7 linked regions of the Homo sapiens genome follow. The protein of the gene in region 5 purifies or fractionates together with the protein of the main gene of each other region. This does not show direct contact. Each region holds a gene or a part of one and is shown on either strand. Other genes may lie near its edges.

Evidence for each region.
Region 1: the proteins of FFAR1 (region 5) and TMEM70 purify together in Homo sapiens (affinity purification with mass spectrometry; one large-scale study listed by BioGRID and IntAct). This does not show direct contact.
Region 2: the proteins of FFAR1 (region 5) and CYBA purify together in Homo sapiens (affinity purification with mass spectrometry; one large-scale study listed by BioGRID and IntAct). This does not show direct contact.
Region 3: the proteins of FFAR1 (region 5) and VKORC1L1 purify together in Homo sapiens (affinity purification with mass spectrometry; one large-scale study listed by BioGRID and IntAct). This does not show direct contact.
Region 4: the proteins of FFAR1 (region 5) and RER1 purify together in Homo sapiens (affinity purification with mass spectrometry; one large-scale study listed by BioGRID and IntAct). This does not show direct contact.
Region 6: the proteins of FFAR1 (region 5) and ATP13A3 purify together in Homo sapiens (affinity purification with mass spectrometry; one large-scale study listed by BioGRID and IntAct). This does not show direct contact.
Region 7: the proteins of FFAR1 (region 5) and DECR2 purify together in Homo sapiens (affinity purification with mass spectrometry; one large-scale study listed by BioGRID and IntAct). This does not show direct contact.

The regions. Positions count from the first base shown.
Region 1 is NC_000008.11:73,978,937-73,983,365, forward strand, and holds the end of TMEM70 (transmembrane protein 70, mitochondrial), read left to right. Parts: intron 1-142; exon of another isoform or gene 143-235; intron 236-2,218; coding exon 2,219-2,685; 3' UTR 2,686-3,847; downstream 3,848-4,429. UniProt on the Homo sapiens protein: Scaffold protein that participates in the c-ring assembly of mitochondrial ATP synthase (F(1)F(0) ATP synthase or complex V) by facilitating the membrane insertion and oligomer formation of the subunit c/ATP5MC1 through its interaction.
Region 2 is NC_000016.10:88,642,776-88,645,748, forward strand, and holds the end of CYBA (cytochrome b-245 light chain), read right to left. Parts: intron 2,655-2,973; coding exon of another isoform or gene 2,391-2,654; exon of another isoform or gene 797-2,390; coding exon 578-796; 3' UTR 514-577; downstream 1-513. UniProt on the Homo sapiens protein: Subunit of NADPH oxidase complexes that is required for the NADPH oxidase activity that generates, in various cell types, superoxide from molecular oxygen utilizing NADPH as an electron donor.
Region 3 is NC_000007.14:65,956,566-65,960,398, reverse strand, and holds the end of VKORC1L1 (vitamin K epoxide reductase complex subunit 1-like protein 1), read right to left. Parts: 3' UTR 841-3,833; downstream 1-840. UniProt on the Homo sapiens protein: Involved in vitamin K metabolism. Can reduce inactive vitamin K 2,3-epoxide to active vitamin K, and may contribute to vitamin K-mediated protection against oxidative stress.
Region 4 is NC_000001.11:2,390,446-2,394,975, reverse strand, and holds the start of RER1 (protein RER1), read right to left. Parts: upstream 3,136-4,530; 5' UTR 3,018-3,135; intron 1-3,017. Other genes in the region: MORN1 (MORN repeat-containing protein 1), read left to right, coding at 3,443-3,518. UniProt on the Homo sapiens protein: Involved in the retrieval of endoplasmic reticulum membrane proteins from the early Golgi compartment.
Region 5 is NC_000019.10:35,346,419-35,350,804, forward strand, and holds the start of FFAR1 (free fatty acid receptor 1), read left to right. Parts: upstream 1-1,483; 5' UTR 1,484-4,386. Other genes in the region: B-cell receptor CD22 isoform 1 precursor, read left to right, coding at 148-279.
Region 6 is NC_000003.12:194,476,846-194,480,685, forward strand, and holds part of ATP13A3 (polyamine-transporting ATPase 13A3), read right to left. Parts: intron 1-3,840. UniProt on the Homo sapiens protein: ATP-driven pump involved in endocytosis-dependent polyamine transport. Uses ATP as an energy source to transfer polyamine precursor putrescine from the endosomal compartment to the cytosol.
Region 7 is NC_000016.10:400,389-404,948, reverse strand, and holds the start of DECR2 (peroxisomal 2,4-dienoyl-CoA reductase [(3E)-enoyl-CoA-producing]), read right to left. Parts: upstream 3,065-4,560; 5' UTR 2,986-3,064; coding exon 2,906-2,985; intron 1-2,905.

The sequences.
Region 1 (4,429 bases), on a different chromosome or scaffold from region 5:
CTTGTTGTTATGGCATCCCTTAATTACAAGACGTAAGGAAAATTAGATTTTCATTTTTTTTTCTTGAGGTGTGTTGATAAGATGTAGAGACCTTTGCATTTTTAGATTTTTATTTGAGACAGAGTCTCACTCTGTTGTCCAGGCTGGAGTGCAGTGGCATGATCTTGGTTCACCATACTCTTCGCCTCCCATGTTCAAGCGATTCTCCTGGCTCAGCCTCCTGCTGGGATTACAGGTATGCACCACCACACTTGGCCAATTTTTGTATTTTTAGTAGAGACAGGGTTTCACCATGTTGGTCAGGCTGGTCTTGAACTCCTCACTTCAAGTAACCCACCCACCTCGGCCTCCCAAAGTATTGGGATTACAGGCGTGAGCCACCACGCCCGGCCTCTATTATGTTTTAATATTTCGAAGGGGTAACTTCCCCTCATTGCTTTATTTTTTTATTTTTTGCTGCTTTTGTTTTTCCAAATAAACTTTATAATCAACTTGTTTAGGATCTCAACTTTATTTTCCAAACAGATGGTATTTTTTATTAGGATCGTATTAAAATTATAAATTAAAGGTAAGGTAAATTTACATTTTAAGTCATTTTTTATTGTGGTTAGATAAACATAAAATTTTTCACTTTAATCATTTTGAAGTATACAGTTTAGAAGCCATTTTTTAAAAATAATTTTTATTTTTTAGAGACAGGGTCTCTGTCATCTAGGCTGGAGTGCAGTGGTGTGATCATAGTTCACTGCAACTTCAAACTTGTGGGCTCGAGTGATCCTCCCACCTCAGCCTCCCAAATAGCTAGGACTACAGACATGTGCCACTACACCTGGCTGATTTTTTTTTTTTTAAGCTAGTCAAATTTAGCAGTGGGGACATTGTATACCAACTTTAGTGATGCCAGTGTTAAGTTCTGATAACTCATTACCATCAGACCAGCCTTGGCTAATTAAAAAAAATTTTTTTTGTAGAGACAGGTCTTCCTATGGTGCCTAGGCTGGTCTCAAACTGGTCTCAAGCAGTCCTTCTGCCTACACCTTCCAAAGTGCTGAGATTACAGGCATGAGCCACTGCACTCTGCTAGAAGTCATTTATTTTTAATCTTTCTAAGGTAATAGGTAAAAATGGTATCTCAGTGTTTTTTTTGTATTTTTTATTATTTATTTATTGAGACGGAGTTTTGCTCTTGTTGCCCAGGCTGGAGTGCAGTGGCACAATCTGGGCTCACTGCAACCTCCACCTCCCAGGTTCAAGCAATTCTCCTGCCTCAGCACCCCCAGTAGCTGGGATTATAGGTGCATGCCACCAAGCCTGGCTAATTTTTGTATTTTTAGTAGAGACAGGATTTCGCCATGCTGGCCAGGCTGCTTATCTCATTGTTTTAACTTGAATGTCTTTCCTTACTAAAGAAATTGAATACCTTTCCCATATGTTTCTGTTTTTTTTTTTTGAGATGGAGTCTCGCTTTGTCTCCCAAGCTGGAGTGCAGTGTGCAGTCTTGGCTCACTGCAGCCTCTACCTCCTGGGTTCAAGGATTTTCCTGCCTCAGCCTCCTGAATAGCTGGGATTACAAGCACTTGCCACCATGCCCAGCTAATTTTTGTATTGTTAGTAGAGATGGGAGTTTCACCATGTTGGCCAGGCTGGTCTCGAACTCCTAACCTCAAATGACCCACCTGCCTCAGCCTCCCAAAGTGCTGGGATTACAGGCATGAGCCAATGCGCCTGGCCGTCCGATATGTTTTTTAACCACTGGTTTTATTTCTCTGGTGATTTGCTGTTTTAATCCTGGGCACTTAGCCTGATAGAATTTCCCATGTTTGAATATTTTATGTTAGATATACTGGAGTGCTTGTTAATAGAGAGTTTTGTTTGATAATCTGCTATCTGAATCAACTTTTGTAGTACAATATTAGTAAGGATCTTTAAGTAATATTAACTACTTTATTGTGGAACTGAGGTAGGGCCACTTAAACCCTAAAGCAGATTTCCTGCCTGGAGAGGCAGTGCATTCTAATGGTCAGTAGCAGGGACATTGAAGTCAAAATATGTAAAGTCCTTAAAACAGAGCTTAGAATATAATAAGCACTGTATTTATGGTTTGATTTTGTTGTCTTGAGCTGATACAGTAAGAAGAAAAATGGAAGAATTAGTGGGATAGATTGATTCTTTTATAAAATTTAAAAGTATTGATCCTCTCTCTTTTTTTCCCATTTAGGTGTGAAATGTTTCTCTTATTCTACGAGTCTGATTGGCCTTACATTTCTGCCATACATTTTTACACAAAATAATGCTATTTCTGAAAGTGTGCCTCTGCCTATTCAAATCATATTCTATGGCATCATGGGAAGCTTTACGGTGATCACCCCAGTGCTGCTTCACTTTATTACAAAAGGCTATGTCATTCGATTGTACCATGAGGCCACAACAGACACTTATAAAGCCATTACCTACAATGCTATGCTTGCAGAAACGAGTACAGTGTTTCACCAGAATGATGTGAAGATTCCAGATGCTAAACATGTATTTACCACATTTTATGCTAAAACAAAATCACTGTTAGTTAATCCAGTGCTCTTTCCAAACCGTGAAGACTATATCCATCTAATGGGTTATGACAAAGAAGAATTTATTTTGTATATGGAAGAAACCAGTGAAGAGAAACGGCATAAAGATGACAAATGAGCCTATTTGTTAGTGTTCGTGCTCAAATGTGATTTACGTTTTAATGTATAATAATAAAATTGCCTTTTGCATTCCGTTAGTGACTGATTGTTAAAAATAATTTGAAATTATCAAAGCTTTTAATTTCCAGAGAATGATGTTTGTTTATAATAAAACAAGCTATGTTTGAAAACCAAAATGTAGTATCTACCATTCGTGTTTTAGAAAGGTATGTGAATAAATATGTTCATGCTAGTATAAGAGTTCTGTGTTACTGTGGTTGACTCTAAACTGGGGATCTGATGTCAGTAGCAAATGGGAGAGTTGCTTTATTCTTTGTGTATGGATTTTTCTAAGTGTATAAATATTTTCCGACATTAAAAGACATTTTCTCTTTGAGGAAGACACAGTCATAGGTGGTGCGGAGCTGTGGTCCACCTGCTCCTGCTCCTGACTCACTGCTCTTTGCTGTTGCCTGAGGACCAAGTCTGTCAGGAAGCTGGCTAGGAAGCCTTGCAGCAGCCATGGCTTTTAAACATACCAGAAAAACACCCGTGGAGTCAGAGGTGGCAATTCACCGAATTCATATCACTCTAACGAGTTGCAACGTAAAATCCCTGGATAAGGTGTGTGCTGACTTGATCTGAGGAGCAAAGGAAAAGAATCAGTGAAAGGACCAGTTTGAATGCCTACCAAGACTTTGAGAATCACTACAAGAAAAACTTACGGTGAAGGTTCTAAGGCATGGGATCGTTTCCAGATGAGAATCCACAAGCGACTCATTGACTTGCGCAGTCCTCAGATAGTTAAGCAGATTACTTCCATCAGTATTGAGCCAGGAGTTGAGATGGAAGTCACCATTGCAAATGCTTAAGTCAACTGTTTTCATAAATTGATTACCAGTTGTTAAAAAATTTTCAAAAAACCGCAAAATTTCAAGAAATTCACAAATTATGGGAGCAGTTTTAAGTCTTCTTTGGTTCAGAACACAGGTTTTTGCCTAACCCCTGGCATGATTGCCCATAAGAACATACATGTACAGTTGAACTGGTGGTTAGCTATACGGGAAATGGTAAGTAGTGTTGTCTTCAGTATCTTAATTTGTTTCTGCAACTGTGCACTCCTCCCTTGGTGGCACCCTATGGGTGTAGGAAAACCACTGTTATTAAACAGGTGAAAAATACCTTGTGTAAAATTGCTGTCTCTATGCTAGCTTTGTCAAGAATATCCATTGTAAGATTTTTACCTCTATTGTAAAGTGGAGATTGACTCTTGCCAAGGATTTTTAGCCAGGAACAAGAGGCCTCAAACCACACTATTTAGATCAGTAGATATTTACTAAGTGCCCAGTACTGTGCTAGTTACTAAGATCACAGTTAAGAATGAAACACCCCGTCTGTCTTTATGGAGCTACCTAACATTGTCTATGGCCACCATGATAGTAAATTTAAACTTTATGGCGTACATGTGTATGAGGGAGGTTGATGGGGAAGCAGCAGGAACATCTGTTCAAAGAGATCATTCAACTCCCAGGCTGCTCGAAACTTATTCATAGGAGATAAGACAGAAAAGCTGTCTTTCTGAGACGTAGAGCCTGCCCTCTGCTTGGATTGTCCAGCTCACCAGACTGAGAATTCCCACCGCCATTCCTCTGTGCCATCTTCTGCTCAAGGTGGGTTTTTGCCTGCTTGCTTCTCTGTCCTTTGTCCCCTAGATGTATCCTAGCAATGAATGAGAGATGTGTTTCTATTTTTTTCATAGCAAC
Region 2 (2,973 bases), on a different chromosome or scaffold from region 5:
GGGGTGGCCAGAAGCCCCTGCAACTTGGCCTGAGCGTCCTGGGCAGCTGGGGGGCCCCCCAGCATCAGTGTGGGGGCAAACAAGGCCACATCCGCCACCAGCTTCACCCCAGCTTCTACGGAAAAGAGGCGCAGGGTAGAGGCTCACCACGTGGCTCCGACCCTGTTCCCTTTTCACTTAACGCCAGCGGCCTCCTCTGGAATCCAAGCCCCTTAGGGAGGCGTTAGGTGTGGAGGGCCTGCAGGGCCTGCAGGAGCTGTCAAGGGAGGACTCTGCTGCCTCCTCCAGGCCCGGGAGGACCTTTCTAGGGAGGCACACACCTGGAATCCAGGTACTATATTTCGTGGAATATACGGTACCCGGGATTTCGTGTGCTGCTGAGAAGGAAGGCGATGCTGATGTTAATGAAACTGGAATGCGGCCCGGCTGGCAGGAAACGGGGTGCCTGCCCAGGCCTCGGGAACCATCGCTACCCCAGCCCCGCCCACCGGCCCCAGGCAGAGGCTCACGCGCTCCCGGCTTCGCTGCATTTATTGCAGGTGGGTGCACCTGGCGGGAGGGCAGGTCCGGGGCGAGGTCACACGACCTCGTCGGTCACCGGGATGGGGTTGACCTGGGGACCTCCCGGGGGTCCCCCCGCCGCCACCGCAGCCTCCTCCTCGCTGGGCTTCTTGCGGGCCTCGGCCGGGGGCCGCGGCGGGGGGTTGCTGGGCGGCTGCTTGATGGTGCCTCCGATCTGCGGCCGCTCCCGGGGCTTGGGCTCGATGGGCGTCCACTGCTCGCCACGCACAGCCGCCTGCGGGGCACTGAAGGGTTGAGCCGCGCCCCAGCGCCCGCCCTCCCTCCCTCCCTCCCTCCCCGGAGGCCCACCCCGCTAGGGGCCCTGGGACAGGCTCAAGTCTGAATCCCACGCAGGATGGTGTGACTGCCACTCAGAGAGGTTAAGTGACGCGCCCGAGGCCACACAGCCAGGACCTGGGTCGGCCTGACACCAGCCCAAGCTATTTCTTCATGCCAGGAGTGGGGCCCGAACCCCTGGGCTTCTGGAAGATCCCGTGGTGGACACTCCCAGATGCAAATTCTAGTACTCAAATTCTCCTCTCAAGGTGCCAAGGGCAGGGAAGGCAGGGAGGCAGGCCCGAGGTCCAGCAGGAGGGGTGGCCCAGGAGAGTAGCAGGCCCTGCTCCGTCTGGTGGGCGCCATTCACCCACGCTGGCCGGCAGCCCCCCAAGGGTGCCCAGGCATTTCTGCACATGGGGGTGGTGGGGGGAGAGCTTGAAGACCACGGGATTCCACTGGCTTTTACTAAAAATACAGACTCCTGGGCCCATGCCCGGAGGTTCCACTGCAACAGGTCAAGTGGACCTGGGAGTGTGTGCTTTTCATCTTCTATCCCATAATATCTGGTGGAAAAATATGTCACATCATATACGTCATGAACAGAAAGAGAAACTGGACATGTGTGATCCTACCTGACTCCAAAACGGAAACATTCCATTCTGAAAAGCAAAACTAGAAGGCTGATAGAAGAAAAGGCAGGAACGTGAAGGCAGGACCCAGGGCCAGGGAAAGGTGTTTTCACAAAGCACAGACCATAGAGCAGGTGAACAGGGAAACCTCTGCTCTTCCGTGCAGTGAAGGACTCCACGCGCCAAGTTAACAGACCCTCACCAGAAAGCATGAAGGCATCCCCAGTGTTTAAAGGTTACAAAGGCTAAATAGCTAAAATATATGTGGACTTCCTGCAACTTAAGAAAAAGACAATCAGGCCGGGCGCGGTGGCTCACGCCTGTAATCCCAGCACTTTGGGAGGCCGAGGCGGGCGGATCACAAGGTCAAGGAGATCCAGACCATCCTGGCTAACGCGGTGAAACCCCGTCTCTACTAAAAATACCAAAAATTAGCCAGGCATGGTGGCACGTGCCTGTAGTCCCAGCTACTCGGGAGGCTGAGGCAGGAGAATTGCTTGAACCCAGGAGGCGAAGGTTGCAGTGAGCCGAGATCACGCCACTGCACTCCAGCCTGGGCGATGGCGCGAGACTCCATCTCAAAAAAAAAAGAAGAAAAAGAAAAATACAAAAACCACAATAGAAAAATGGGCAAAGGATTTGAACAGGCAACTCAAGGGAGAAGAAACTCCAACAGCTCAAATCCACAGTCAGAGAAGGGCGAGTCCAAGCTCCACACGGCCAGCTCGTGCTGTGAAACTGGCAAGCGTGGGAGAAAGCCTAGTGCATGGTGGGAGAGATGGGGCCACATGGCTGGTGGTGGGTTGTCTGCTGAGGAGCAGCTGAGCCCGGCAGGGTGAACGGTGCAGAGGCTGATGCCTGACCCAGCAATTCCTCTCTGGGTTTAGCACAAGGAATTCCTCCCGAGGTCTCCAGGAGCCACTAGCTGTGCGTGGCAGCAGGGAGACGGGGGGGATGCGGGTGGCCCCCGGAAAACAAAGCAACAGCCCAGATGAGCACTTGGCAACAGGAAGGGGTTCTAAAGGAGAGTTCTGCCGGTGGCAGGTCAGTGAGGCTTGAAACAGAACTCCACTTCCATACGCGGAAGGCGTACACAGAAAGTGCTGCACCTTTCCCACGCACACACACTAGAAGACGCACAGCAAGGGGAGGGCAGTTGCCTCTGCGGGCAGGAGGGACTTGGCTCTATGGACAAAAGGATTTAAATAAGCAAAGTCTGAGGGCTCTGTCCACCCAGAGACCCCCGCAGTGAGAGGTGGCCTGCAGCCGTCTGTTCCGGAGCCCAGGGCAGGCAGAGGGCATTTCACCCAAGGCCTGGCCAGGCTGCGCCCTGTCCTCCCACCCATCCCTGGCCTCTCAGAGAGATCACTGTATCCCATGGGATGGGCAGCCTTCTAACAGGGTGCAGCAGTCATAAACCAAACGCAGGTGTCGGCAGTTTAAGAAAATGTCTGCGTCCTGGCACCGCCCATGAATCAGCGCGAATAGGGTTTAGGTGAGAAAA
Region 3 (3,833 bases), on a different chromosome or scaffold from region 5:
AGCACTTAACAGGGTCTGTGTGCCAGTTTCTACATAGTTAAGCTGGCAGTGTCTGAATTGGAAGGTTAGAGGTAACTGGTTCTCCCAGAACATTGTTTTGACCTCAGCCATAGGGTCTTGACAGAAATGGACAGATGAGTGTAAAAGCCTATTGGCTTTATCATAACGGATGCCACTGAATGTGACAGGACCTCCTTAAACAACTTTGCCTACAAATCAGCATTCCATGCCTTTACACCCCAAAATGACGCTACCTGCCCCCTCCCAGAGCACAGTCTTTCCTTAAGGAATCTGTCCTCCCTCTCTTCCTGGGCTCCAGTAAGGCAAGGATGGTGCATCAATTCTGATTTGAAGTATACGCTTTGGAAAAATACTCCTTTTGGTGTCCAGTCAGTTGAAAGACAATGAACCAATACAGTTTGTTTTGTTTGTTTTGAGACAGTCTTGCTCCGTCGCCCAGGCTGGAGTGCAGTGGCGCAATCTTGGCTCACTGCAACCTCCACCTCTGGGGTTCAAGCAATTCTCCTGCCTCATCCTCCCAAGTAGGTGGAACTACAGGCATCTGCCACCATTCCCAGCTAAATTTTTAAAAATATTTTTAGTAGAGATGGGGTTTCACCATGTTGGCCAGGCTGGTTTCGAACTCTTGACCTCAGGTGATCTGCTCGCCTCAGCCTCCCCAGGTGCTGGGATTATAGGCGTGAGCCACTGTGCCCGGCCTCCAATATGGTTCTTGCTATAGAACTTGATTTTCCCCTCTCTTGTGGTTGAGCCCCGTGTCTCCACACAGACCCTCCTTTTTAGCTTTCCTGTGCAAGCTCCATGAAAGAAAGAATAAAGTTAATTTCATGTGGTTTTATTAGGCATCGTCCATTTTTTAAAAATGAGTGTAGTCAGTTCCAATTAGGAATCTAGAGCTTCTGTATTTTTTTTATCAACTTCTCTTTAGTTTTTCAAAGGAATCAAGTTTTGTGTTCCAGTATGTCAAAGTATAATGAATAAAACTTTTAGTTGACAAACATTAAGAAAAGTTAAATGTAATAGACACATTTAAATGGTTTACAAATTAGGGGCAGTCCATTGTTTTTTTTCTTGAGCTGGAGTCTTCCTCTGTCGCCTAGGCTGCAGTGCAGTGGCGTGATCTCGTCTCACTGCAACCTCCGCCTCCCTGGTTCAAGCAATTCTCCTGCCTCAGCTTCCTGAATAGCTGGGATTACAGGCGCACACCACAATCCTGGCTAATTTTTCTGTATTTTTCAGTAGAGGCAGGTTTCACCATGTTGGCCAGGCTGGTCTTGAACTCCTGACCTCAAGTGATCCACCCGCCTCTACCTCCCAAAGTGCTGGGATTACAGGCATGAGCCATTGCACCCAGTGGGGGCAGTCCCTTTCCACAGGTCTTGAGCTCCAGCACAGAACACACTTGTTCTATTCCGTGAAGTATGGCTCAGCTGTATTTCCAACGGATTCATCTTTCTTGCCGATGCTACCTTTTTAGAGGATTATACAGGGAGTATTCAAGGTAAGCTAAAGTAAAACTATGGAAAAACAGCTCATTAATACATTCTGAGTGTTCACAGAACTGTAGGCAGTGACACATTTTTGTCATTAATTCTTGACAATCACATACACCGTAAACCTACAGGAATTCCAAGAACTAGAGGTCTGAGGACTCTGAATCTTCTGCAAGTTACATATGATTTAAGAGAAAAAGAATCAACCCTGTATACCTTAGAAATGAGGTTACAGTATTGACTTCAAGAATATAAGGCTCCTACTGAGTCTAAAAAGACTTCGTTTCAGTTCTTTTGGAATGCAACCCTGCAGTTTAAGAATAATGGGAGCACAACTTCCACAGGTAACTTCTACATTTATTTTATACCAAAAAAGTTATGTGCAACAAATAAACATTCTTACATATTTACATTTGGTTTTATTTACCAGTTAGCAAAACAGTGCCTTAAATCTCTGATAAAGAGTATTTCTATCTAGATTAAAGGGGAAACCTGCCCAGTGAACTCCATTTTAAATGACTGTTTACTCTGGAGCTTAAAGCACTAGTAAGAAATATTTCTGATGGAACATACTACACAGATCATATACCTAATAAATACTTAGGCCATGCTTAATACAGTTTTATAACAAAATATTTCACCTTTTCTGGGCGAATTTGTAGTAAAAAATGTTTAACCAAGTAGCCGGGGCTCCCACCCTTGCCCTTTTTGTTTGATGGAAGGGTAGTTCTCACAATTAGAAACCATAAGTGCTGCCTGAGGTGTCTGAAATGTTTCACCCATGACTGTGTGTTAGAGAAAAAGACACGAGGACAGAAATTGCATATTAGGTCATTAGGTCTTTTTCCCCAAATAGGTTACCAGAAATCACAGTGGGTCTCCTTGTTGGCATCTAATAATGATCTTCCAAGACAAGATCTCCTGTCACTCTTGGTACCAATCTAAGTTGTGAAGTAATTGCTGAAGATAACTCTGTACTTTTGCAAATAGTCTTTTCCAAAACTAAATGAAAAACAAAAGTCAACAAATAGTTTTTATTTTTATTTTTTTATTTGAGACAGAGTTTCACTCATTGCCCAGGCTGGAGTGCAATGGCGCAACTGTGGCTCACTGCAACCTCCACCTACTGGGTTCAAGCAATTCTCCTGCCTCAGCCTCTGGAGGAGCTGGCATTACAGGTGCCGCCACCATGCCCAGCTAATTTTTGTATTTTTAGTAAAGACAGGGTTCCACTATGTCGGTCAGGCTGATCTCGAACTTCTGACCTCAGGTGATCCAACCGCCTCGGCCTCCCAAAGTGCTGGGATTACAGGTGTGAGCCACCATGCCCAGCCAGCAAACAGTTTTAATTTCACTGTAGTCTTGGTCCTCTTTGAATGCAGTCTCTCTCTTTTTTTTTTGGGGGGGGGACAGTCTCGCTCTGTTGGCCAGGCTGGAGTGCAGTGGCATGATCTTGACTCACTGCAACCTCTGTCTCCCGGGCTCAAGCAATTCTCCTCCCTCAGCCTCCCGAGTAGCTGGGATTACAGGGGTGTGCCACTGCGCCTGGCTAATTTTTGTATTTTTAGTAGAGATGGGGTTTCACTATGCTGGCCAGGCTGGTCTTGAACTCCTGACCTTAGGTAATCCACCCGCCTCGGCCTCCCAAAGTGCTGGGATTATAGGCGTGAGCCACCGTGCCCGGCCGAATGTAGTTTCTTTGAATGAAAATAGTCAATGCTTTGAACATCATTTGAAAGTAATGAATTTAAGGAGAGGACACATGTATGAAGGAACAGTGATTCTGGGCACACAGCTAGTTAAACCTGAGTTATTTCACCGGAAATTTACCTTTAGTGAGAGCAACTAGCTGTAATGCAAAACAAATGAAATCCTCCAAATCACCTAGATTCCCTAGAATTTATCATCTAACCCCAATTCCTGTTATTTCTTCAAATGATATTTGTGAACATCAAGTCAATAAATGGCTTCATTTGGAACAAATCACTTAAAAAAGATGAGGCATGGAATTACTGCTAAAAACAAATGTTTCCCCTCATCTGTCCTTTAACACTGGTGGCTAGTAATGCTGCAGTGTTCAAATATTCAGTCTAAAACAGGCAAAACAATCTTCTAATTTTGTAACACTGGTGATTCCCCCCCTCTTCTGGGCAGAATCGGAGGTATAGAAAGGAATCTGAATTCTCCAGGGCAAAAAACACCCAATTAACACCCACCAGGATTCTGTTACTGAGACACTGGCATTACAATGCTGTTATGACAGGCAGTACGTGTTCCTCTCTCAGTGAGAAAAAGGGTATTAATTCGACTGGGCCATAG
Region 4 (4,530 bases), on a different chromosome or scaffold from region 5:
GAGCACGCCGCCACCCCACTCCTGAGAGGAGACGGCGTCAGGACCTGCCGCTCTTCGGTAAAGCACAGCTCAGTACCCAGGGCCTGCCGGTTGTCATTCCTACTTTAAAGATGAGAGGCCTCCTGGCCCCTGAGCTAGAGAAGACGCCAGGGGTGACGTTCACCTCCCCCACCACCCCCCATCTGCTCCCTCGGCAGGGCAGTGAGGAGAAACAGACTCTGGTCTCAAGTTTGGCTTAAAGTCCCACCTGTGCTAAGCGGCTGTGAGGCCTTCAGCAAACCCTCTGAGCACGCAGCCAGCCTCAGTTTCCTCATCTGTAAAATGAGGCTCTAAGAAATACCAGACATGAAAGCAAAGACATCATTCCTCAGCAACAGTTGGGGTCAGTCTTATTGTTCTCATTTACAGATAAGAAAACTGAAGCTCACAAAGACTAAAGAGTTGCCCTGGCCCATCAGCATGTTCGCAGTGGGCAGGAGCCAGAACCTGCACCTTCCTGAAACCAACGCTTTTCCAGTCCCATCCTCACTGTGAGCACTGGGGAAATCTTCCCTTCAGGTGGAAGGCAACAGGTGGCCAGACGCAATCCCGCCCTCAAGTGCCTTGGCTCTCCCATCACAACTGATGCGCTGAAGTGATCCAGGCAGCTCCCTCCACATCATCAAGTCTGTGCAGAATGTGGCTCCATGACACCGTTCCTGGATCCTCTGTGCAGAGTGCCAGGCTGCTCAAGGAGACCGAGGGGCCCTTTGGTCTCGCGGAGCCGTGTAAACCAGACACAGAGGAGGAGCACCTTTACTCTCCACTGAAAGAACTCCATATTTAAATAGAGGCTACACTAAAATGTGTCACCTGGAATGGCCACCCTATTTAGGCCAAAGCCAGGCCATCTGAAAGCCACCCGTCACATTGTTCGTCCTATAGCTCCTTGTAAGTTTCCCCGTTTTACTCAGACTGTTTCCCATTAAAGCACTTTTACTGGACTGGAGGTGATGAGAGTAATGTCAGGGAGAAAATACCCAGCTCTCCCGCCAAAGGGTGTTCTCTAGGCAAAGCTCAGAACTTCTCACTCTCCAACTGAACATGTAGAAAACCTACTCAAAACGCCATCAGCCAATCCTGCTTGTCTGACACACACAACACGTATACCAAACACACACGTATACCAAACACAGCTTGCACCCTGACTGAACGCATTGCCAGGAATAGCCTGAGGCAGGGCGGCAGGAGCAAGAACGTGAACTTTGGACTCCAACAGCCTGCTTTCAGATCCTGGCTCTACCACTCTCTGCCAGTGTGACTAGGACAGGCTATTCCAGGATGCCTCAGGTTCCAGTCTGTGAAATGGGACAACAGCACCTCTCATGCCTTCTCCACAAGGCTCTCGTGAGGAATCAGTGGGCAGCCCGTGGAGCACCCTTGGAGCCGGGCAAGGCAGTGCCAGCCCTGTTCCTGGATCAGGGCCAGCCCTCACACCAGCTGCCCCCTCTGCAGTCCTCTTCTCTGCTCAGTTTGAAGCCCACCTCCTCTTCACAGGCCTCCGTTACCGCCCACACTGACCCCCAGTCCCTTACATCACATCACCCTATTTTTATTTTGTGTACAACTGTTTCCTGATACCTTTCTGGTTTACTTCTCAATTTTCTCCTGCTAGAATGAAGCTCCTTGAGGGGTCCCTTGTCTGGTTCGGGGCTGGGCCCTGCCACCTGGAAGTCCATTACATAGTAGACAGCCCATCAATTACCTGTTGAAGGTGACTGCTTTATGCCTGGTCACAAACAAAACAGAAAGGGAGATAAAACCAGTCCAAGCAGAGACCATGAGGACGTGCCAGAAAGTGTAAGACTCTCTATGTGCCTTGTTCCAGGCCCGTCACATTCATCCACATCTGTGGTCCATCACTCTGCACGTGGAAAGGATGAAGTCCTCTGCCTGGCGTCCGGGAGCATTGACAGTCTGGCTCCCACCTTTCTCTTCACGTCCCCATCCCCAATTCCTCCGGGACTAAGAAAGCCCCCGGCTGCCGTGCACCAAGCTTCACGCCTCTGGTGTTGTTCAGTCCTCTGAAATGCCCTCCCAGACCCCGTCTCTTCCTCCTTCCCAAGGCCACATTCCAGCCTGGGCTCCCCGCTCCTCTGGGCCTGACCATCTTATATCTCCACCTGGCTCTGACACACTGTTACCGCCGTCGCCGTCACCTCAGGCATACGGCAGAAGCCATGTGAGAGTCTGAATTACTGAGAACCCTTTATCCACTTACGGGGATAACTGCATCTTCCTGGGAAATGTCAACTCAACTAAAAATAAAGTGCTTCCAGGACTAGCGGCCAGTCTCTACTCTTCATAAAGGGAAAAGGGCAAAAGCCCACTGAAGGTACTTAGGCTGAAAGCAGCCCTCTGTGCTGTGAGACACCTGGCAGAGAAACGAACGATACCTTTATCAGTGGGGCCACAGACCAGTACTAAGTCAGCCTGGAGAATTTATGATTTTATTGCCTATTTAGAATACGATCAAAACCGATGTAACTAGTTTCCCTTCAGCCCGTCAGTAACGCCTTCACCCCAGAGCTTAACACTAAATCCTACAGATAAGCGCTGACCTGGACGCAGGATGGGGACAGGGCACATTACTCTGGAATACAGCCCAACTCGCAGCGCTGTGGGGGCCGCGACTGCCCGCTTCCCCCAGATGCCAAGCAGGGGATGCGGACGAGATGCGGCCCGGGTGGCTCGAGGGCTGCAGCCCCCGCCCGGCCCCTCTCCCGCTCCCCCGACCCTCGCAGGCCCCAGGGCTCCGCCGCACCCCCCAGCACCCCGTCCCGGGCCCGACCCCGAGGCGCGACCCGTACCCCTCAGGGCCGCGGGTCGGGAACACGGTCCCCGCGGCCACCCGGGCCCCGACGGCCCTCCCCGCCCGGCCCTCAGCGCGGCCCCGCCCGCCCGCGGCCTTGACAGCCCGGAAGAAGCGGAGGCGGCGCTGCCCGGCCGTTCCCGCGCCACGCAGCCCTTCCTGGCACCTCGCAGCTCCGCTACGGCCGAGCCGCGGTCTCCCTCACGGCCGCGGGAAGGAGGACGGCGGGGCACGGGCGGCCGCAGGCGCTGCGCTCCGGCTCCGGGAAGCTGCAGCGAGCACTTCCGCTCCGTCCTCCGCGGCGCCGCCTCCAGGGCCCCCAAGATGGCGCGAGGGCGGGGCCAAGGGCTCCAACCATTTCCGCTTCCGGCGCAGACGCGCAGGCCGTTGGCGGGCGGGCCTCCCGGCGGAAGAGACGACAGCGGCGGAAACGCGCACAGGCGCAGCTGCGTCCTCTGGCTCCGGGCCCGGCTAGCTTCGCTCCAGAGATTGCGCGGGCTCAGGGACTAGGCCCGTGGCCACACCCCCCCTTGCGACAAAGACCAATGGAAGCGGGCGTTGCTGGTCGCTAAGAGAACCCTCGGCGGCAAGATGGCAGCGGCGGGCGAGGGCACCCCGAGCTCCCGCGGGCCGCGTCGGGACCCGCCTAGGCGGCCGCCCCGGAACGGTAACGACTGCGGGCCACGGGACAGGTCGCTGGCTGCCCTGGGCTCCATTCAGGGTGCGATCGCTCTACGCCCTCGACCCCCAAATGCTCACCTCGGAAAGTAGAGGTCCAGGTGCCGCGGCGGAGCCAGGGCCGCCCCCGCGTCCCCCACTCCCACAGGACTCGCCGTGCGCCTCGGGCTCGGCTCGCACCCTTCCCCGAGCCCTCCTCCCGCAGCAGGCCAAGCCCTGCAGGGGGTCGCCCCCCGCGGGCTCCTAGCCGGGAAGACCGGGTTCCGGCCGCAGCCTCACAGCCAGCGGGACCTGGGGTTGCCATGGGGATCCCGAAGCCCAGGACTTGGGGCGAGGGCAGGCGCAGGAGCAGCACCAAGCCTCCTGACTTCCTGGCCGGTGCTGTCCAGAAACGCTAGGACGCGTTTCAAAAGCAGTTTTTGCCTGTACTTCCAGCACTTTGGGAGGCCGAGGCGGGTGGATCACCTGAGGTCAGGAGTTCGAGACCAGTGTGGCCAACATGGCGAAACCCGGTCTCTACTAAAAAATACAAAAATTGGCCCGGGGTGGTGCCTCCTGTAGTTCCAGCTACTCGGGAGGCTGAGGCAGGAGAATCGCTTGAACCCAGGAAGCGGAGGTTGCAGAGAGCCGAGATCGCGCCGCTGCACCCCAGCCTGGGCGACAGAGCAAGACTCAGTCTCAAAAAAAAAAAAAAGAGCAGGTTTTGATAGGAACTGTTTCTAGAATCAAATAAACGGGTCTGGAATGAACTCAGAGCTAACACTACTATCTTCAGGTAGAACCTGACCCTGATTTGGGACAGATACAGTAGCCTGTAGTAACCCCCTGCCCTCCTCCCCGACATTTTCCCATAAACCCTGCCCACAAAATGTGCCTGAGGAGCTGGTAGGGAGGGAGCCCTGCCCATTCCTGGAACTGCAGGAGTTGGCGGGTGGCACACCCAGCAACTAGGAGGAGATGAAGCCGGCCAGGCCATCCTTGGGTATGAGTGTGGATTTTCT
Region 5 (4,386 bases):
GATGCCGGCCACAGCCAGTTTCCTGACACGAGGACACCCGCCTGGGCTTTTGGACCCCCGGGTGGAATGAAGGAGAGAATGCGGAGAAAAGCGGCGGTGGAGGCTGGCGACAGTGGGGCCAGGCTAACCACCATGCGGTTTTCTCAGGGCGACTATGAGAACGTCATTCCAGATTTTCCAGAAGATGAGGGGATTCATTACTCAGAGCTGATCCAGTTTGGGGTCGGGGAGCGGCCTCAGGCACAAGAAAATGTGGACTATGTGATCCTCAAACATTGACACTGGATGGGCTGCAGCAGAGGCACTGGGGGCAGCGGGGGCCAGGGAAGTCCCCGAGTTTCCCCAGACACCGCCACATGGCTTCCTCCTGCGCGCATGTGCGCACACACACACACACACGCACACACACACACACACACTCACTGCGGAGAACCTTGTGCCTGGCTCAGAGCCAGTCTTTTTGGTGAGGGTAACCCCAAACCTCCAAAACTCCTGCCCCTGTTCTCTTCCACTCTCCTTGCTACCCAGAAATCCATCTAAATACCTGCCCTGACATGCACACCTCCCCCTGCCCCCACCACGGCCACTGGCCATCTCCACCCCCAGCTGCTTGTGTCCCTCCTGGGATCTGCTCGTCATCATTTTTCCTTCCCTTCTCCATCTCTCTGGCCCTCTACCCCTGATCTGACATCCCCACTCACGAATATTATGCCCAGTTTCTGCCTCTGAGGGAAAGCCCAGAAAAGGACAGAAACGAAGTAGAAAGGGGCCCAGTCCTGGCCTGGCTTCTCCTTTGGAAGTGAGGCATTGCACGGGGAGACGTACGTATCAGCGGCCCCTTGACTCTGGGGACTCCGGGTTTGAGATGGACACACTGGTGTGGATTAACCTGCCAGGGAGACAGAGCTCACAATAAAAATGGCTCAGATGCCACTTCAAAGAACCAGTGAACTCTTTTCAGTCTGTGGAGTCAGAGTGGGGATGAGGAGAGGGGAAAGTCTTCATGGGGCCTGGGGGGAAGGAAATGGAGTCACAGTGGTTTACTGATCAAACCAGCAGATTAGAGAGTCTGGTGTCTTGTTAGGAAAAGCATACTGGCTTTGCAGACAGACAAACATGAGAACTTGAATCTTGATTCTTCGGCTTAACTAGCCCGGTGATCTTGGCAGGGCTCGCCAGCTTGCCTGAGTCTCGGCTTCTCCATCTGTAAAGTGGAGAGGGAAAGGCCACTGCCTACCACGCAGGTGGCCCACGATAGGAAGTGAGGCATCGTCTTCTATATGCTGGAGCCACATTGAGACCCAGCACAGAAGCCGAAAGTCCCCCAGAAAACCAACCTCCATCCTTTATTTGCATTTTTCGAAGAATGTGAAAAGGGGAAGCCGATTCAAAACAGCTCTTCCCAAAAGTGACGCTACCCAATTCTTGCACAACCCATAGCTGCCAGAGAAAGTCTTGAAGACCAGCCACCCTGAGAAACCTCACAGCTTTTCTGTCATTCGAGGTCCTCTGCACCCGTTCTCTAATTCTGTTCACTGATTCAGACTTTCCAGTTAGGTGCCCCAGCTCCCCTCTCCGCTTCTCGGGTTTGATCTTTCTCCACCCATTCACCTGCTTCTGCAAAGGGGCTAAAGCCCATTCTCCTTAGAGGGCAGGGGTGTAATTATCTGATCATCAGGGAGATTGGCTCCTGGCACGTGGCAGGTGTCCCCAAACTGCCACCTTCCTCTCCCACCTTCCTTTCCCTCCCATCTCTGCTCAGTACCCGGACGGTAACTCTAGGAATTATGGTTCAGGGAGGCCTTGATCGCCCCATCAATCCACTTTGTCCCTGGTTTGATTCTTGTGAGCACCATTAACTTTTCTGGAGGAAGGTGAGGCTTTAAGAACTGTTTAAAGCCCAGGCGTGGTGGATCACGCCTGTAATCACAGCACTCTGGGAGGCCAAGGTGGGCAGATCACCTGAGGTCAGGAGTTCAAGACCAGCCTAGCCAACATGGTAAAATCCTGTCTCTACCAAAAATACAAAAATTAGCTGAGCGTGGTGATTCACACCTGTAATCTCAGCTACTTGGGAGGCTGAGGCAGGAGAGTCGCTTGAACCTGGGAGGCGGAGGTAGCGGTGAGCCGAGATCACGCCACTGCACTCCAGCCTATGCAACAGAGTGAGACTCCGCCTCAAAACAACAACAACAAAAACTGTTTAAATGAGACAGGAGGGTGTTGGGGTGTCTGTGCCCAAAATGGGGTCTGGTGTCATTCAACTCTTTCTTCATTCATTCTGCACACAGATACTGAGCACCTGGAAATGCACCCAGTACAGAGCCAGTTGTTAGGACACCAAAAAGATAAGGCGTAGGACCAACCTTGGGGATCTCTAGTCGAGAGCCGCCAAGGGTTTTTAAGGCAAGATACCCTGGAGGGAGCTGAGGCAGTCCTAAGCCTGAAGGGCCTGGCTTAAGCTCCCTGGCAACCATCGAGCATCTTCCCCTTCCCACCCTGTCCCTCAGCACAGCTGCTGACATAAACCTACTACATGGCTGATTGACCATGAGATATGGCCATCAATAGACATTGCTGAGGCGTGAAGAGCAGGTGAAGAGCAGGTGGCCAGGAAGCTAGGGGGCCAGGACTCCAGACGCAGGCCGCCCTCCACAACCCCAGCTCTCACAGTCCTCCCAGGGTCCAGACAATGGATCGTGCATTTAGGTTCCCAAACACCTGCTGTGCAACGTGTAGTAGACAAAGCAGACCAAAGCCTTTGCCCTCAGGAGGCCGGCATTCTAGCTCAGGAGCCAGCCAAGACGATGTCGCACTGAAGAAAGACAACAAAAGTGAGATTCACAGGAGGGATGAGTGTGGCTGAGGCACCCGGGAAGGCCCTCGGAGAAGGTGACCTTGGGCAAAGATCCAGACGCCAGGTGGGTGGGGCCAAAGCAGAGAAGATCTGGAAAACCCAATGGCTCCCCAGGGCTTCGCTCTTGCTGCAGGAGGGGAAACCACACTGCTGTGGATTCTTCCTCCATTCTGTCCATTTCTCAGTTCCCAACAACACACTGAACAGTAGGAGGCCAGTTCTCCGCTCACAGCGGGCGCTGCACCCCAGGTGCTGCTCTCGAGAAAAAGGCGAGCATGGACCAATTTAGTGGCTCCGAGGTATGAAAAGCAGTGAGATGGTGTCTTTGAGGGAGTTAGTGATAGGCTGAGACCCCCTTGCTGTCCCCCCTGAAGCCTGGTGACCAGAGCTGCCAGGAGGCCACACAGAGAGAGGTTTATGATGGGGGACCTGGAATTCGGAAGGGGCAGAGTGGTCAGGTGACCCATACACGCCTGAGAAAACTGATGTGGAGAGCTGTGTTGTCATTCTGAGGCAGGAAATAGAGACAGACTGACAGACAGACAGAAAGACACGGGCACATTGAGAGACAGAGACAGAATCACAGAGCAGAGCTGGCTTCTCACCAGCAGGCGTGGGCACACCTGAGAGAGCATCCAGAGAGGTTAGAAATCTTCCTTAGGTCCTCCTGGGAGGCTCAGGTGACCCCAGTGGGAAACATGAAAGGCTGGGAGGACTTCCAGGGCTGAGAGAAGGAAGCTACGCAGCCGGCCGGTGCCACATTCCCTGTGCCTTGGGGAGTGTCCCCCAGTGTCCCCAGCCATGCACCCTGGGGGGAGTCGGCTTGGACATCTGTGCCACCCCTTGACAGGCAGAGTGGGGGCCACAACCTGGGCCCTCCAGTGCTGGTCAGCAGAGGCTGCCCCCGCCCCTTGCCTTCCTCCTCCCGCTCCTTCCTCCAGCCCTGGGAAGGTCGGAAGCCACCACCATGGGGCTAGTGCGGAAGCAGAGGGAGAACAGAGGGGCCCTCCTCGCAAAAACTAAAACAAGCCCACAGCCTGTGCAGAACCGCACCCGGGTGTGATCACTCCTTACCCCACACACCCACTGCCACTTGGAGATGGCTTCATGGCTGCAGTCACAGGGCACCCTGTGTTGTCAGGGGTGAGCCAGTGAGGCCCGGGACCTGCCCAGGGGTGCATCAAGGGTGGAGAAGACCTGGCCCCAGCGCAGGTGTGAACAGGCAGGAGGGCTGGGGAGGGAATAGCGCTGGGTTGTGGCCGAGCCCCCAAGCCCTGCTCTTGAGAGGCACTGGCTACACACTCGGCCCCTACCCAGACAGGACCCCAATTCCTCCCTGGCCCCTCTGTGTTCCTGCATCTTCCCAGCCCCTCACCTCCTCTGGCGTGGCCTCACCTCCAGCCGGGATGCCCCATTAGCTGCTCACCCAAGCTGCTAGAACCTCAGGCTAATGGCCCTGTCACCCGCCCTCCTCCCCTTCCGGCTCACTGCCCATCCCGGGCATCCTCCATCAGCCCGCTGAGGGGACT
Region 6 (3,840 bases), on a different chromosome or scaffold from region 5:
GTCTTACAACGCACAACATGATGTATTTCCCTGCCATGAGGAACTGGGGCGGAAGGGAGCCTCAACTGGGTTCCAAGGTCAAAGTCAAAACTGATTGCAAGACATGTAAGATCCTACAGACTCTGGCCCCGCCTAGTTGTCAACACCATCTGCCATTCATCAGTGGTTATCACTCGCCCCTTACAAACCTTACATGTCATTCATTTAGAACACAATCTGTAGTTCTTCAAAGAGCCCTACTGTTCCCTGACTCCACTTCTTTATATAGAATATTCCTTCTGCCAAGAATGCCCTTCTCTTAGTCTGGCTAAAGAGCTCCTACTTGCTCTTCCAGGACCAGCTCAAGCTACTAAGCTTTGATTGTCCCTTCCATCTCCTAGCAGAGGACTGCCCCCACCTTTCTCCCACCTCTGCAGGTATCAGAGCACTTTTCCAACAACGTTGAACTTATAGACTAAAAACCTTAAAGGCTGGGAACCAGGCAAGCATCCAGCAGTGCAGCTGAATAAAGGAGACAGGGCAAGACTGGGTGAAGGAGGGGTGGAATCCCTCTTCTTTTTGTGGGCAAAATTTGACAACAAAGTAATTTTGTCTTTGGCATGCTCCCGCATCTCATCCCTATTCCCCTTTCCCAGCTCTCCCAATATCCTGTGTTCCCAGGTCCCTTAGTGACCTCATGGAACTCTACACAACCTCCACCACAGCACTATGTTCTTCAGATCAACCCTTCCTCTTCCTCTTAATCAGGATCCTTCTGTTCAGAAGTTAACACATAAATTAGTGACAGCTTCTCATAGCTGTTAACCTAAGATGAATCACTAAGAAACAAAATTTTAAAAGAAGTATGGAGAGGATATGGGGAGTGGACACTCTATCGCACAGAAAGACTGGCCCAGAAGCATCTAGGAGTCTCTTCCTGACTGGGCCCCCCAGAAGTGTTTCCACCTCACTTCATCCACTCCTACAGATTAGCTGCAGTGAGTGCTACAGGTAGAGACAGAGCTGGGGCAGACACTACCATCCTACAGATCATCCATTCTTCTTGGGTTGAATACCTCTGTGTCTTTGTTTTAGTTTGAGACCACTTATGGTTAATTCTTCAGCAGACAGAAAGTTCTCACCAACATGTTCACCAATGAACTTAAAACAGTGTCTTCACTCTAGCCAAGCAGTTCCCTGAAATCTAACCCCAAACTACTGCTTGACTAGAAAAAGGTAAATTAAATCAGAAAACCAAGATGTTGTCAAGTATCCTAATTTTTCAGATAAATCTGTAAATATTAAATTAGCATTCTAGCAATAATCATTCTGGTTTATTGCCAATTTGATTTCATAAAAACTCATTTGTTAGAATGGTATTGCCTACCATGTGCCAACTAGTGGTCTAAATGCTGGAGGTTACAAGATTAAATTTCTAACCTTAAGGAACCACATCTAGTAGGCTAGACAAATAAGTAAGCAAACAAATATCAAACAAAATGGTGACCAATGGCACCAGGGAGAAAGAGAGAACCAAGAACAGAAAAGACTTCAAAAAAGAACTATCTCTTGATCTAAGACCAGAAGGATGTAAACTTGATCAAGCAAACAAGCAGTAAGAGGAAAAATGTTAGGGAGAAAATAGAGAGATGAAACCCAAGCAGGGGAACTGCCACATGCAGAGGTACTATAGTGAGAGATCCTAAAAAATGCCAGGAAAACAAGTTATTTAAACTGACTGGTGCACGGGGTGATAGCCTTTGAGGAATAATTACAAATGGAGGTTTAGAAGGATAGGACAGGATCAGATTATAAGGAAGGGTCTTGTTAGACATGATAAACAATACAGATTATCTTGTAGGTGATGGAGATTCTGAACTTTTGTCACCTGAAAGAGATCCTAGGCCAGGCCAAGGAGCCATATTCCTGAAGAATACAACGTGAATGGTATCCTCTGGACTTGTGCAATGCAACAGCACAGTGTTTACCTGCTGGACTGTGTATGTGTAAGAGAGAAGAACTCATTCATCGATGTCTCCCCAGCATCCAGCCCTGTGTTTGGCATGTACAGGAACTAAAACACTATTAAATAGTTAGAAGTACCAACACAGTCCTAAAGGCATAACCAAGAGGCCCTAACCAAGCCCCCTTCCTTGCTACCTATAAAATCACAACTCTTATACACTACAATAACTTATCATTGCCACAACTATTAAGGGAACATGAAGAATAGTGAGTCACTATGGGCCGCACCAGAGATTAGAAAGGATTGGGGCGGGGGGTACTCTTTAAGATGCTTCTGAATCTGACTAAATTAATGAGCTTATTCTATTCTCTTCATCAAACACTGAACAGAAAACCATGGGTTAGCTTAAAATTATTCTTCAACTAACTCTAAGGCAGTGCTGACAATTATGAAAAGTACATTTTCATATCAAAAAGACCCATTAAATATTTCAATTAAGCGTGTGCTAGGTTAGTCTAGTCTTTCAAGTAAGTGCTACAGACAAAATTATGTCATTTGCCTATTGTACTTTACATTTTACTTAGTATACTAATCTACTTATTATAATTAGCATTAAATAGGTTTCTATCTTTTGTGCTTAGGAAAATTAGAAACATAAACATTAAAAAAAGGAGAAACAAGGAAACTACAGATGAAAATTGTAAATGAGCTTAGAAAACTGGTGACTTAAGAAGCTAAGGCATGATCTAGAGATGAATGAAAAATCTTTGGTCTAAAAAAATAAAGTAAAATAAAATAAAATTTAAAAAAAAGAAAAATCTTCGGTCTATAAGGAACCAGTGACTAGGATTCCATGTTTAAAGAAATCTAAAGGTCACAAAATTGAAATATAATTCAAAGTCTTCTTTAAAAAAAAAGTAGAAATATTTGACTAATCAGAATTTTTAAATGAAAATAATGCATATAAAGTCCTATAAAATAAATACAATTACAGATAGTTTTAAATTTTATAAGGTGGTCAGAGACAGAGACATTGGGTAACAGTAACAAGATGGGAGAGAAAACAGACTGCAAACACACCAGAGACACAAAGAGAAAAACTAAAATATACATAAAATGTATATCGGAGATACATGAGGTTAACATCTTGAGCTTTTGAGGATGTTGCTACTAAAGATACAAAATCATAGATTGTTTTGGACATAAAAAGCCTGAATATAACATTATTGCCTGCTGTTCCAGTTAACAAAAAAACAAAGAGCAATCATCAATCACACCCCACACACACATCTGACTTGTTTTGAATATCTTCAATGTTACTAAGTTAACAAATAATAAGTTACCCTTCACTCAGACTCTTATCCTTACAATTCTCTAAGGTACCCTTTATCACCTCTATCTGGCAAATAAAAAAGCTCTCAGAGGTTCAGTGACTTACTTAACCCAGACTACAAGACTGGTATGTGACAGAGCTGTAATTCAAAATCACTATGGCTCTGAAGCCCACATTTTTATCCAATACACCATGCCCTCTCCCAGGACATAAGACTGTTAAGTTTTTAGCCACCATCATGTTTTTACATACTCATGTTTTCTTACTGTGCTATCCCCAGAGTAATACTTAAGTTTAGATACTTTAAATTTCATGGAATCCATTAATAATTTACATCGCTCTTTTAAAACAATGCAGATCTTGCTAGCAGTAAGGAATAAATTTATTCTTTAAAAAAACAAAACAAAAACACTCAAAGTAGTTGAGTATCCCCTCAGAATGACAGACAGTACCAATAATCTCCTAATATTCTCAACTTTATTACCTAGCCTTTTAATTATACTAGATCTTTTTGTGGCATAACCTTACGGAGATAGCAGATGTTCATAAATACCTAAGTTAT
Region 7 (4,560 bases), on a different chromosome or scaffold from region 5:
TAAAAAAGGAGGCTCTTTTAAAAGAGCCCTATTGGGCCGGGCCGGTGGCTCCCAGCACTTTGGAAGGCCAAGGTGGGTGGGCCACAAGGTCAGGAGATCGAGACCAGCTTGGACAATATGGTAAAACCTCGTCTCTACTAAAAATACAAAAATCAGCTGGGCGTGGTGGTGGGTGCCTGTAGTCCTAGCTACTTGGGAGGCTGAGGCAGGAGAATAGCTTGAACCCGGGAGGCAGATGTTGCAGTGAGCCGAGATCGCACCACTGCACTCCAGCCTGGGCAAAAGAGCAAGACTCCGTCTCAAAAAATATGTATAAATAAAATAAAATAAAAATAAATAAAAAATAAAAGAGCCCTGTTAAAATACACCTCCCATATTGCTATACGGCAATGATTTAAAATGAAAATTCGGCCAGGTGCCTTGGCTCACACCTCTAATCACAGCACTTTAGGAGGCCAAGGCGGGCGGATCACCTGAGGTCGGGAGTTCGAGACCAGCCTGACCAACATGGAGAAACCCCGTCTCTACTAAAAATATAAAAAATTAGCCGGGTGTGGTGGTGCATGCCTGTAATCCCAGCTACTTGGGAGGCTGAGGCAGGAGAATCACTTGAACCCAGGAGGCGGAGGTTGTGGTGAGCCAAAATTGCGCCATTGCACTCCAGCCTGGGCAACAAGAGCGAAACATGGTCTTAAAAAATAAATAAATAAATAAAATGAAAATTCATAAAATTATAGTATTTTATTTAATTTATTTATTTATTTTTTATTTTTTTTGAGATGGAGTCTCGCTCTGTCGCCCAGGCTGGAGTGCAGTGGCATGATCTAGGCTCACTGCAAACTCCTCCTCCCAGGTTCACACCATTCTCCTGCCTCAGCCTCCAGAGTAGCTGGGACTACAGGCACCTGCCACCACGCCCAGCTAATTTTTTGTATTTTTAGTAGAGATGAGGTTTCACCGTGTTAGCCAGGATGGTCTCGATCTCCTGACCTTGTGATCCACCCACCTCGGCCTCCCAAAGTGCTGGGATTACAGGCATGAGCCACCACACCGGGCCTATTTATTTATTTTGAGACAGGTTCTTGCTACGTCATCCAGGTTGGAGTGCAGTGGCACCATCACGGCTCACTGCCGCCTTGACCTCTTGGGCTAGAAGGATCCTCCTGCTTCAGCCTCCCCAGTAGCTGGGACTACAGGTGCATGCCAGAGTGCCCAGCTAATTTTTCATCTAGTTTTTCTAGAGAGGGGTATCGTTTTGTTGCTCAGGCTGGTCCTGAACTTGTGCTGACACAAACTTGCAAAGTGCAGTGGGGGAAAGGGTATTTCTGTGTCTTTTGACAGAAATGGACAGAAGTAGATACAAGAGAGAAAAATACCCTGGCTTAAACAAGATAGAGGTTATAATTTCCTCTCTCCTAAGCCCTGCATGGCACTAATATCAAATATGATACCTGAGATTCAGCAAGCTACGTCGGGATAATATGGCTTTTTTATTTATTAGAGATTTTCTTGTACGCATTAAATGTGTACTGATCGGTATGACTGGCACAAACTGTACCAGATGGATGGCAAACTTTTGCTGATCTCCAAGTTGCCTTTCCTATTCTTAATTATTAAAGATTAATTTTGGGCCAGGTGCAGCGTCTCACTCCTGTCATCCCAGCACTTTGGGAGGCCGAGGCAGGTGGATCATCTGAGGTCAGGAGTTCCAGACCAGCCTGACCAACATGGTGACACTCACCTCTACTAGAAATACAATTAGCCCAGCGTGGTATTGTGTGCCTATAGTCCCACTTGGGCGCACTGAGGCTGAAGCAGGAGAATTGGGAGGCTGAGGCAGGAGAATTGCTTCAACCCAGAATGAGACTCCGTTTCGAAAAAAAACTTTTTTTTTTTCCTGCAGAACACTCAGAGAGAATTGTCAATACCTGTCCTTGGAGAACATAATTTAAAACTTGTTTTCTTTTTTTGAGATGGAGTTTCACTCTTGTTGCCCAGTGCAATGGTGCGATCTCGGCTCACTGCAACCTCCACCTCCCGAGTTCAAGTGATTCTCCTGCCTCAGCCTCCCAAGTAGTTGGGATTACAGGTGTGCGCCACCACACCCGGCTAATTTTTTGTATTTTTAGCAGAGACGGGGTTTCACCATGTTGGCCAGGCTGGTCTCGAACTCCTGACCTCTGGTGATCTACCCGCTTCGGCCTCCCAAAGAGCTGGGATTACAGGCGTGAGCCACTGCTCCTGGCAAAAGATCAAAATTTTAATAGAAACTTGAAAATGTTGCCAATTGAAAAAAAGAAAAGGAAAAAAAAAAAAGGATCCGCCCATTAGCCGAGTGAGGGCAGGTGACCGGGGAGGATCGACCTTTGCCCGGGCTGCCTTCTCTTGTGAACACCAAGGCGTTTGCAGGAAAATGAAGAGCTGCTGGGCAAAACCTGGCATTCCTGGGCCTTCTGGGTCTTCCGGAAAAATGATTTCAACCTAAAATTTTCTGTTAAGAAAGAGGCCAGGTTGGGCCGGGCGCGGTGGCTCACGCCTGTAAATCCCAGCACTTTGGGAAGCCGAGGCGGGTGGATCACCTGAGGTCAGGAGTTCGAAAAGAGCCTGACCAACACGGTGACACCCCCTCTCTACTAAAAATAAAAATTAGCCGGGCTGAGGCAGGAGAATCGCTTGAACCCGGGAGGCAGAGTTTGCAGTGAGCGGAGATCGTGCCACTGCACTCCAGCCTGGGCGACACAGCGAGATTCCGTCTCAAAAAAAAAAAAAGAAAGAAAAAAGAAAGAAAGGAGCCAGGCAAGACAGGTTTCCTAACACGCGAGCCCTCGGGGACCACGTGGGGGCGCCGGCGCCCGCGGACCGGACCCCGCACCAAGGCTGCGCTCGCTTCCCAGGCCCCGCTCACCGCAGCAGGTCCGGGCAGAAGAGGTGGCGGTACGCGGGGAGACAGTCGTCCCCCTCCACGTCGGGCGGCGGCTGGGCCATGGCGCTCCCGTCGGGGACTGCGGGGACAACGGGCGGGAGCGGCCTCGGCCTCCAGGACCCGGCGCGCAGCTGCGAACTCGCCTGGAACCGGGAGCCCCGCCCCACTCCCCGGACGCCCCGCCCCTGCCCTGATTGCTTCCCGGAGGCCCCGCCCCTCCCCCGAATTCTCCCCGGAGGCCCCGCCCCCGCCCGCGGCCTGCTGGGACTGGAAGTCGGCGCGCGAGGCGCAGGCGCATTGCGGGGCCGGGGGCGCGGTTCCCGCGGCAGAAGCTCGGCGGTCTGCGGGTCTCCTCCCCGAGTCTTTTTCACAGGTATTCGGCGTCAGCGCCGCGTTCAGAGCCTCCAGGACTTGTGGGATACCCCTGGCTCCTGGGTCCAGGCCAGGCTCGCAGCCTCTGGGCTCCCCGTTCGCCTCCCCGTAAACACCATGGGGAGGGCCGGGGCCCAGGGAAGCGCGGCCAGCCCCGCGCCGCTTCCCAAAATGACCCGTTTTGAGGCCAATAAAGAAGGGTCCGGGGCCGGGCGCGGTGGCTCACGCCTGTAATCCCAACACTTTGGGAGGCCGAGGCGGGCGGATCACGAGGTCAGGAGTTCGAGACCATCCTGGACAACATGGCGAAACCCCCTCTTTACTAAAAATACAAAAATTAGCCGGGCATTGTGGCGGGTGCCTGTAGTTCCATCTACTCGGGAGGCTGAGGCAGGAGAATCGCTTGAACCCGGGAGGCGGAGGTTGCAGTGAGCCGAGATCGCGCCACTGCACTCTATCCTGGGCGACAGAGCGACACTCCGTTTCAAAAACAAAAACAAAAAAAAAAGGGTCCGTTACTTCTGTTCCGCGTGGGGGCCCGGGCGGGGCTATGCCGCGAACCCAGGACGGGGCGCCCCGCCCGCACCACTGTTGGAAGACGGGGGTCCGCGACGGCCACGGGGGAAAAACACGCAGGGCCGCTCCTGAGCTGAACACACCCGCGGGCCAGCGGCTTCAGGGGCGTGACAGAGCCGCCAGCGCTACAGTAATGGCTGCCAGGCCCTTTCTGCGCTGGTTGGCCTCAGCCCGCCGGCCCCTCTCTGCCCCTTCCCCGGGAAGGCAGCTTCTCCTTTGGCGGGATCACAGCACCGGCTCGCGCCTAGCTTGGGTTCTCCGGATTGCAGGCTGGTGGTCTCTGGACCCCTGCCTGGCTCATACATCCAACAACGTTATGGAACTGGGTGTGCAAAACTTCCTCTTTACTGTTCAACTCCTTACAACTTGCATAAAGGCGTCATTTCTACCTCAGAGCTGGGGGAAGTCATAATTAGTGTACCACCCATGTGCTGGGCACAGTGAATTTTAATGCCTCCCCTTTAGAGGAGAGGTTATGATAATGTGAAGACCCCCCCCCACCACAAAGGTTGTCCGGCACTTTGGTGCAAAAAGGATTGGTCCAATCTTGTGCTGGCTTGGGGTACAGAAAGGCACTGAAGTTGGTGGCTCAAACTCCTCTGGGCTGGGGTGGGGCAGAGGTGAACAGGGAAGTAAGTGGTTTGGGACAGGCAGGTTTGGATGTGGGCTTGGGTTCTTGCTGACGGAGG